Linked DNA regions of Homo sapiens. Each later gene encodes a partner of the first gene's protein in a complex. Each region holds a gene or a part of one and is shown on either strand. Other genes may lie near its edges. A codon is read from its position in the direction of its gene.

Region 1 (7,051 bases):
AGTGAAAGAATGATTATATTCATATTTGCTTAAAAATCCATAAACTGGCCAGGTTCAGTGGCTCACACCTGTAATCCCAGCACTTTGGGAGGCTGAGGTGGGAGGATCACCTGAGGTCAGGGGTTCGAGACCAGCCTAGGCAACATAGTAAAACCTCGTCTCTACAAAAAATAAAAAAATTAGCCGGGCATGGTGGCGTGCACCTGTAATCCTAGCTACTCGGGAAGCTGAGGCAGAAGGATTGCTTGAGCCCGGGAGGTCAAGGCTGCAGTGAGTTGTGATTACACCACTGCACTCTAGCCTGGGTGACAGAGTGAGACCCTGTCTCAAAAAATAAAATAAATGAAAATACATAAACTATGTCTGGAAGGAGACATAAGAAACAGTGGTTGCTTCTAGGGAGAGGAACTGGGTGGCTATAAGATGGGGTGAGAAGGAAATTGTTTTCACTGTGTATCAAGTTATACCTTTTAAATTATGTATTATGTGCTTGTGTTACTTTAATAAAATAAATTAGTAAAAGAATTTTCCAAAGTGATTGGGACTCAGGTTCAAGTACTTGTGTGGATCTTGTCCTGCCTCAACCTTGACCCTGTTTAAGTAAGAGTAAACGGGAGGAGGGAAATAGAAACCCACAAAAAGTCATCAGGGTTGAAGGATTTCTTTCTCTTTGTTTTTTTTCCTTTTCTTTTCTTTTCTTTTTTCTTTTTTTGAGAAAGAGTCTCACTCTGTCACCCAGTCTAGAGTGCAGTGGCGTGATCTCGGCTCACTGCAACCTCCGCCTCCTGGGTTCAAGCGATTCTCCTGCCTCAGCCTCCCGAGTAGCTGGGATTACAGGCAAGCGCCACCACACCTGGCTAATTTTTGTATTTTTAGTAGAGACGGGGTTTTACCATGTTGGCCAGACTGGTCTGGAACTCCTGACCGCAAGTGATCCACCTGCCTCGGCCTCCCAAATCTGCTGGGATTACAGGCATGAGCCACCATGCCCGGCCAAGATTTCAATAGCTTTCCAGAAGACAGAAAGCAGATGGAGGAATGACCAAGGAGAGTTGAGACAGCTAGAGCCTAGAATGTGCATACAGGAGGCACCAGCCAAAGAGGCTGGGAAGATTAGTTTAGTTGAGCATCTTGCCATCCCAAACAAGATCAGGGATATGTAAGTGAGAAGTGGGATGTTGGATTGGCAACCAGTTATAATAATCTAAAAACCACTTATTGATTTTTACTTTTTAGAACTCACTTAGAAACAAATCATGAAACAAATAACAGACTGTAAATATCAGCACCATGACAATATTAAGGTACACATGTCCATGATAGGAAGTTGGCAGGTAAAAAGGGGAGAAAAATCGAAAGGAAGAGGCCTGTAATCTTGTTCTGTTACAAAGTGGGGAGTCAAGAAGTAGGATCTGCATTGGTTGGACAATAAATGAAGGAGTGAATGCATTACATAAAGTTCCAAGCCAGGTGTGGTGGCATGTGCCTGTAGTCCTAGCTACTCGTGAGGCTGAGGCAGGAGGATCATTTGAGCCCAGGAGGTCAAGGCTGCAGTGAGCTATGATAGCACCACTGTACTCTAGCCTGGGCAACAGAGCGAGACTCTATCTCTGGAAAAAGAAAAGAAAAAATCTCCAAAGCAGAAGTTGCAAACTGTTTTATTTCGACCACATGTCTCTGTTTTGTTTAGTAAAAATCAGGGGACTCCAACTTCTTTTTAAAGTATCAGAAGATCTGGCATCGCTCTCCAGGTGGCCCCAGCTCTCACATTCCTTACTGATGCCTCAGCCAGAAGCCAGTGTTGGCTACCGATCACCCTATATCTGGGGTGTTATTTTTCTCATACACGAGTGCTTTCACTCACTTGGTCCATGTAGGTTACACTAAAAGCACGTATACATGATGGAAAGGTACAGACCCATGAAAAGCTAAAATAATTTTGAAAAACAAGAGAGTAGGAAGACTCAGTCTGCACAGTTTCAAAACTTACTGTAGTATAGTCTCAGTAAAGACTATGTGGTATAGACATGCAGATCAAGGGAACAGGATAGGGAACCCAGAAACAGACCCACAGAGATATGCCCAGTTGATTTTTAACAAAGATGCAAAAGCAACTCAATGGTGCTGCAGCAATTGGAAACTCATCACCAAAAAGGGAAATGCTGACCTGAACCTTACCTTCTAAAATGGATATGGACTTACATGTAAAGTGCAAAACTAGAAAATATATTTGAAAAAAATAGAAGAAACTTGTCAGGATCTAGAGCTAGGCAAAAAGTTCCTATACATGACATCAAAAGCAGAATCCATTAAAGGAAAAATTGGTAAATTGGACCTCATCAAAATGAAAAACTCTTGTTCTGTGAAAGCCCACATGAAGATTGTGAAAATACAAGCTACAGACCGGGAGAAACATTTACAAACCACATATCCAATAAAAGACTGGTATATAGAATATAAAAAGAGAGTGCTCAATACTCAACAGTAAAAACGAACAATCTAATTAGAAAATGGGCAAAAAACATGAACAGATATTTCACCAAAGAGGATATATAAAGATGGCAAATGAGGATATAAAAAGATATTCAACATCATTAGCCATCAGGGAGAAATGCAAATTAAAACAACAATGATATATCACTACACATCTATCAGAATAGCTGAAATAAAAAAATAGTGACAATACTCATAACTGGTGAAGCTGAGGGAAAATTGGGCATCTCATACATTGCTGGTGGGAATGTAAGTGATATGGCTTCCATAGAAAATAGTTGAACACTTTATTAAAAAACCAAACACACAACTACCATAAAACCCAGGGATGACACTCCTGGATATTCACCTAGAGAAATGGAAATTTATGTTCACTCAAAAGCCTGTACATGAATGCTCATAACAGCTTTATTTATAACAGCCAAAATCTATAAAGAACCAAAATACAGGTGAACAGTTAAAGCGTGGTACATCCATACCATGGAACACTTCTCAGCAATTAAAACAAAAAACACTATTGATACTAAAACAACTTGGGATCCAGCTCAAAGGCATTATCCTGACTGAAAGAAAGCTAATCTATTTCAAAACATCACATACTATATGATTCCACTTATATAACATTCCTAAAATGACAAAATCATAGAGACATTGAACAGAGTAGTGACTGCAAGGAGTTGCGGGGATGGGGTAGGGAGGAAGACAAGTGTGACTATAAAGCGACAGCAGGAGAGAGGCCTTTGTGGGGATGGAACAGTTCTCTATCTTCATTGTGGTGGTGGCTAGAGGAATTTTATTTTATTTTATTTATTTTATTTTTTTGAGACAGACTTTCACTCTTATTGCCCAGGCTGGAGTGCAATGGCACGATCTCGGCTCACCACAACTTCCGCCTCCTGGATTCAAGCGATTCTCCTGCCTCAGCCTCCCGAGTAGCTGAGATTACAGGCATGCACCACCACGCCCGGCTAATTTTGTATTTTTTGTAGAGATGGGGTTTCTCCGCATTGGCCAGGCTGGTCTTGAACTCCCAACCTCAGGTGATCCGCCCGCCTCGGCCTCCCAAAGTGCTGGGATTACAGGTGTGAGCCACCATGCCTAGCTATGTCATATTCTTCTTATCCAGCTTTATTACAGTGATTGCTTTTTACATGTCAGCCTTTAAATTAAAGACTCAGCAAAGCTTACTAGAGGCAGAACCATTCCAGCTGGAAAAGTTCAAGAGTTGCCATCCCAAAGGTTGGTCTTTCAGATGTGCTTATCCAACAAGACGTTCCTCTTTACGATGACTAAGAGTCACTATCACGCTTACCCAGAAGTTGCAAATGATGACTAAGAAAAACGGAAACTTCCAACGTGGTAACTAAAGTACACACTTGCAACAGTAAGTTTTCCAAAAGCAAAGCACAATTTTCTCCACCGTGAACTTGTCCCTGAGCCACCCTGTCTTCATGAGACTCTCAGAAAGGGAGGGTCAGCTCTCTGTGACCTCATCTTACAGAACTCCTTCAACTAGTCCCCATGTCTCCTCATTACTGACACATCATAGGAGAAAAGATATGCAGACATATACTGTCAGTGACATGAGTAATGCTGAACAAATAATAAAGGTCAAAGGTACTAGATTCTATTTCTCAGAGTTCAGTTCACAACCTCCACATCATCCTCTCAAAGCAGCCACCATCATCTGTAGTGGATATAGGAGGCCACAGAGCTATGGCAGGCCTGCCCCTGACCAGTGACAAGGCAGGGCGGAAGTGGCTCTGTTAAGGATGACTGCTGGGATTCAGGAGGAGCCAGGGAATAAACACTCACCCAGGACTCCATGTCTGGCCTTTGTTCTGCAGCCTCTGGCCTTTAATCAGACAAAGTGCTGGAGTGGCAATGCCTGCCGCTCTGAAAGCCCCTTCAGAGGAAACATCTGCAGCAGGGTTCAAAGGGCAGAGGCAGTTGCTCAAAGGAAGCTGGAATTTAAAAAGAGATGAAAAACAAACTTGGCGGGGGGCGGGCGGTGGCGGGGGTGAATAGAGCAGGGGCAACTGAAGTTGGCTTTCTAATCCAAACAATTAGATTAAGTGACAGTGAACATAGGAAAGAACAAATATTTGCTCAGCCTACTGTTAGGCTCTTTGCCAACTGCTCCCACGTGGAGACTTAGAAAGCCAAGTCCAAGAAGGCGAGATGATGCCAGACAGCTGCCCAGCAAGCCCTGGCCCCAGGTGCTCGCAAATTCCCTCTCTTTGCATGGGCAGTATCCTATTCCACTTTGGGAAAAAACAAGAGAAACTGAGAAAGCCAAGGGTATTCTGAAGTATTAGAAAGAGATTAGCACTGTTTAACCACAAATGACAGGAACTAGGGAGAGAGGAAGGCCTAAGAGCCAGGATATTCTGGCAGGTACTGTCTTAAAATCATACATTAACCAGGTGCTTTGCTTCTCAGGTACTAAATCCATCTGGGAACACATACATCAACCTAAAGGCCAAGTCTCTAGAGATCCCTTCCCAACGAGCTTTTTCTACCCCATGCTCTCAGTACACATGCAAAGGCTTTTGCTTCCACTGGGGAAAAAAAACAACAGGAAACTCAAGTAGCACCGTTCCACACAGCAGAAACACAGGGCTGCAGATACCTGGCACTGAGTCCCCACACTGCCATTAAACCAGTGCCGGAGCTGTGTGCAAATAACAACACTCGTTAAATCAAATGCTCATCCCCATTCTGTGGTCAATATTTGAAGACATGAAATGGTTCAGAAACCTGTCTGAGCTTAAAGGATGAGTAAGCCTCAGACTCCAGAAGTTAAACTATAAGCATGGACTTTGGAGTTTGTGCAGGTACATGGAGAGAATGCAGGTGCTGTGTCCCTCACATAAAGGCTGCCTCTGCACTGTGCAGAATATTCAGAGATGATGGCAGGTGCTAAGGAGGAAAATAAAGCAGAAAAGGCCTCGCAAGGAAGATAACTTTTGAGGGAAAACCTATTATGTGTTTTGTTCATGTATATTTCTTCATATGAAAGAAAAAAAGAAAAGCAAGACTATGTTACGAAAGTTCCTCTTCCCCTCCTCTGGCGTCACTTCCCCTACCCCAGCCAATTTTGGAAATATGGCTATTTAGTCTTGCCTTTCTACACTCCACACCCAGAGTTCTTTTTTAGCAACACTGAAAGGTTAGAGACAACTCACTGCTTAGGAGAAAAATCTCTGCATCAACTAATTTTGTCTCCCCTCTTGACACTGTCTCAGGACATTATTGATTGTCACAACTTAGCGGCGAGGTATTACTTTTTACAACAGAATTATCAGACCCAAAGTGTTAACAGTGCCCAGGTTGGCAAACTCCAATTTAAGGGAATTGATCTTAACCTGAAATATCTGTTCCTGGTATTCTATTATACTTCAGTGTCTTGTGTAGGGAGAACAAATGAGTTAGAAAAGAATAGAACGTTCATGATGAAACTCAAATCTGCTTAGCCACAATAAAAGCAGATTCTTATCTGCAAGGTATCCTAAGCCCTTCCAGTTTTGAAAAAAAAGTCATGAAAGGCCCAGGGCGCTGGATCATACCTGTAATCCCAGCACTTTGGGAGGCCGAGGCAGGCGGATCACCTGAGATCAGGAGTTCGAGACCAGCCCGGCCAACATGGCGAAAACCTGTCTCTATCAAAAATACAAAAATTAGCCAGGCGTGTTGGCAGGCGCCTGTAATCCCAGCTAGCTGGGAGACTGAGGCAGGAGAATCGCTTGAACCTAGGAGGCAGAGGTTGCAGTGAGCCAAGACCACACCCCTACACTCCAGCCTGGGTGACAGAGCAAAACTCTGTCTCAAAAAAAAAAAAAAAAAAAAAAAAAAAACAAAAAACAGAAAAAAGTCATGAAGTTCCTGGAAGTGAAGGACAGGAAAGGCAGACTGGCTGAGACCACACCACATACTGGGGAAATTGGGCAGAGGACTAAATAATTTGAAAATTACACTTTACTTTCTAGTATCAGTTCTGTGAAAAGAAAAGCCTTGAACGGAACCATTTCCTTTGCAAAGGAAACAGCAAGATCCAAGTCTGCAGCGAAAGTTCTTTCTCAGGTGAAATTATAACTAGTCAGAAGCAGAGTCAGTGATCATGCACACCGTAGACTCAACCTCCTGCCATCGCAGAAGGTGCCGCACTCGGCATGCACCTTGGTGTCCGTGCACAGGCTGTTCCCTCTGCCCAGGTACCACCTGCCAGTTACAGCCTAGGTACTGCGAAATGCAAGAGCCCACTGTGCTGGGTGCCCCTCCTTGCTCCACAGCGCTCCACAGCTGCTTCTATCACATCACCACCACACTACTGTATTTGTTTCCATGTCTGCGTCCTTCCTTATTTGCCTCTTAGTTCCAGCAGCAGACCTGGAGTAGGCAACAAACAACACTGCGTCACACTCAGTGACCACCAGCGGGGAGTAATGCTGCATGTGATGGCCTAAGAACCAAGAAACAGGTTTTCTTGGTGGAAATTTGCCTGGAGCCTGACTTATCTGTTAGGTGATTTTTTTTTGATGTGGGATAGGCCCAAGAG
Region 2 (3,061 bases), on another chromosome or scaffold:
TCAGCATCATTTGTACGTGAGGGAGGAGAACACGGGGGCCAGAGGGGTCAAACAAGTTGTTCAAGGTCCTGGGACCAGGAAAGGGGAGCTGGGACCCAAAGCCATCGAGCGGAGCTCTGCAGCCTCTGCTTCCACCCCTGGGTGCCACGGTCACTGTGATTGGAAGGACAAGACTCACTCATATTTTTGGATCAGGTCCATTTGTTCTAATACTGCACCTTGGAAAATCAACACTTCAGCTAGTGCCCTGGCCACTGGGAACGGCTATTTCTAGAGGGACATTTCACCCTTCCTTTTGTTTCCTGCAGCTGGTGCCCCTGTAGGGAAAGGAAAGCTGGTCACTTGTCCTTCCTCCCTTGGCAGGCTTGGGAGCCGCCTGTACTGGCTGTGCTCTCTGGGAACTGGCCCCCACAAGAGCCAGAAATGAACTGTCCTGGCCCCGTCAGAGAATATAATATTGCACAGGTGAAAAGCAAGCCCTGGGTGGCGTTTATCTTTCCCCAGATAACTACAGTAATACTGTTGGACTCGGAATGCTCGGTTACATTTCAAATTTATTTCCAATCGTTCTGAGCTGGATCAATGGCAGACAAAGGTACCTTTTAGCTCTGGCACCTGCTGTTCCCCCCAAATGTCAAGGACTGACATTTGATGCCATTATCCCCAGTCAGCATACAGATGACTTATTTCCTTGCTTCCCCAGCCCCCGGGTACCCCAGCACCCCCTCACCCTCAACAAGGACTTTCCTGCCAGTGAGCTGATGTTGTCCTGCACTGCCCAGGGGGCCCCATGTGCCCAGATTTTCTCCCACCTCCGTGGAGCAAAAGGTGGCCTCTGGGGTGGCCATCGCCTCCCTGGGTCCCTGGGAGTGGCCTCTTGTAGCGCGAGTCCTCCTCCGTTCCTCCCTGGGCAGGCACCTAGTGTTTCCAGGTGGCTATCTCGGGAAGAATCAAGTGCTCTCTCTCTCTGTCTGGTGGTATCAGCAGGGGTGCTGGGCGATGGGGTGTATTTTTCCTGATGGAGATGGGGGAGGCATTCAGGGAAGTGAAGTCTGTTGTCCCTCAAATAAAGTACTCCTTTCTGCTGCTATCACCAGCATCTTGGAGGGCAGGGTCTCCCTGCAGGGCTGCATCTGCACTCTCAGCAAACTCCGTGCCCTTGGCCTCATTGGTGTGGTACGTGCCCTTGTGCCGGTACATGTAGCGCAGCATGACGAAGAGGAGGGAGACTAGGACGATGGCCACAGCAGCAATCACACCTGCAGGTGGGAAGAGGTGCAAGGGTCAGTCTGAGGCAGGGGCTCTGGGGCCTGGGATGGTGGTCAAGACCCACAGGGGTTGTGTGAGGACAGATACAATGCCACAACCAAAAGAGATGCTCCTTGATTTATGATGGGAGCCAGGTTCCTGTAAGCCCATAATAAGTTAAAAATACTGTAAATGAAAAATGCATTTAATACTCCAAACCTACTGAGCATCGAAGCTTGGCCTAGCCTACCTTAAGCAGGCTCAGAACACTTAACATTAACCTAAAGTCATGCAAAATCATCTGACCCAGAGACTATTTTATAATATAGTGTATCATACTATATATTGCCAGCCTGGGAAATGGTCAAAGTTCAAAATTCAAAGTACCGTTTCTACTGAATGCTTTTGCATTCACGCCATTCCAAACTCAAGAACTCATAAGTTGAACCGTGTACACTGGAGACAACTGTACCAACACCAAACAGGCCAGTTCATTCCTTCCCCATGCTTCACCAACCTGTTGTGTGGTGGCACTGTAACCTGTGCCTTCCTAAAATGATTCTCCTTTCCTCTTCCCTCCTCTCCTTCCTTCCCTCCCTTTTCTTTTTCTTCCTCACAGTTCTGCTACTAACCACTCTAAGCACTCTGCAGACACGTTAGAATCATACCCCAGGACTGAACCTTGTTTGGAGATTTTCCGTTCTAAAACCAGGAAAGTCCCAGAAAACAGGGCAGAGCTGGTTGCTCTATGTACACTATACAGGGGGAAAAAAGATGAGGCTATTAACTGTGCTTGGGGAAGGTTGTGTGGTTTGTGTTTTTCAATGGCCTGATGGCTGCTCCTCACCCTACCCTGCTCCCATTCCCTCCTGGGGACTGAGGACGGGGCGAATCTGCTGGAGGAGCAGGACTTGGCCACACAAAGGACTGAAGTGGGAGAGGGTAATGCAGAGGATGCCAAGGTGGTGGCTGTGCGAGGGGCGGTCACCCCTCACTTCTGCTGGGACTCCAGAGGGGTGGGGAAGTACAGTGTGAAGCTGCTCAGGAGGGGTCAGATCACTCAGGACCTTGAAAGTGAGGGGGCAGCAGTCTCATGGGGTGGGGGTGTTTTGAGTTTGGGCATTTACTTTGAAGCTGCAGAGCAAGCCTGTCTTTTCTTAGAATGCAGGTTTATTTGGAGGCCTTGGGGAGGGACTGCTGAAGAATATGGAAAGTCTGAAACTGCTCCCAAGTCCCACCTTTATAGAACAATTTCCTAAACTTCCTACTGCCTTCAGGGGAACACTTGTATCTGCATAATGTTAATAATATCATCTAGGAAGAATAAAAGCTCAGTGGTGCAATGAGTTGGAGAATGCCAGGTTACACAGAGTCCAACAGGTGTCTTTGATTGCTTGCTTCTGCTGCTTTTTCTTTCTTTTCAAATTGTAGATGTTTCCTGAGTTATTAATAAGCTGCTGAGAAGTGTGGATCTCAAAGAAGGTCGCAGAGCACACAGCACCTCCCAAACTTGGTTGTTCTTCAAACACAGTTTGCAGTCACAGCCATGACCCATGGGGAGCCCCTTGCCCAGGGTTCAAAGCAAGGCAAAGGCAGGATCAAGTTTCCTTGAGGATGGAGGGTTGAGGGTCATGGACCCAGGGCAGAAAATAATGTGGGATGAGGGAGATGGTGGAGAAGTCTAAGTAGCCTGGTCAGTCTACCCTCATCTCACCTCCACCCTCAACCTCCTTCACCAAAACTGCTGCCTCTCCAGCTCCTGAGTTCCTGTGAGTCAAAAGCCCTGAGAAAGGCCAATAAATACATACATAGA

Evidence for each region. Proteins that work in one complex are often made in the same cells at the same time.
Region 2: the proteins of MPP1 (region 1) and GYPC are in contact, whole or in part, in an NMR structure (PDB 2EJY), measured with the Homo sapiens proteins. Residues at the interface, in NP_002427.1 of Homo sapiens: Pro81, Met82, Gly83, Ile84, Leu86, Lys87, Leu88, Leu100, Val130, Gln134; in NP_002092.1 of Homo sapiens: Arg123 (codon at 1,083), Lys124 (codon at 1,080), Glu125 (codon at 1,077), Tyr126 (codon at 1,074), Ile128 (codon at 1,068).

The regions. Positions count from the first base shown.
Region 1 is NC_000023.11:154,795,437-154,802,487, forward strand, and holds part of MPP1 (55 kDa erythrocyte membrane protein), read right to left. Parts: intron 4,458-7,051; exon of another isoform or gene 4,321-4,457; coding exon of another isoform or gene 4,309-4,320; intron 1-4,308. UniProt on the Homo sapiens protein: Essential regulator of neutrophil polarity. Regulates neutrophil polarization by regulating AKT1 phosphorylation through a mechanism that is independent of PIK3CG activity.
Region 2 is NC_000002.12:126,694,144-126,697,204, reverse strand, and holds the end of GYPC (glycophorin-C), read right to left. Parts: intron 1,260-3,061; coding exon 1,063-1,259; 3' UTR 538-1,062; downstream 1-537. UniProt on the Homo sapiens protein: This protein is a minor sialoglycoprotein in human erythrocyte membranes. The blood group Gerbich antigens and receptors for Plasmodium falciparum merozoites are most likely located within the extracellular domain.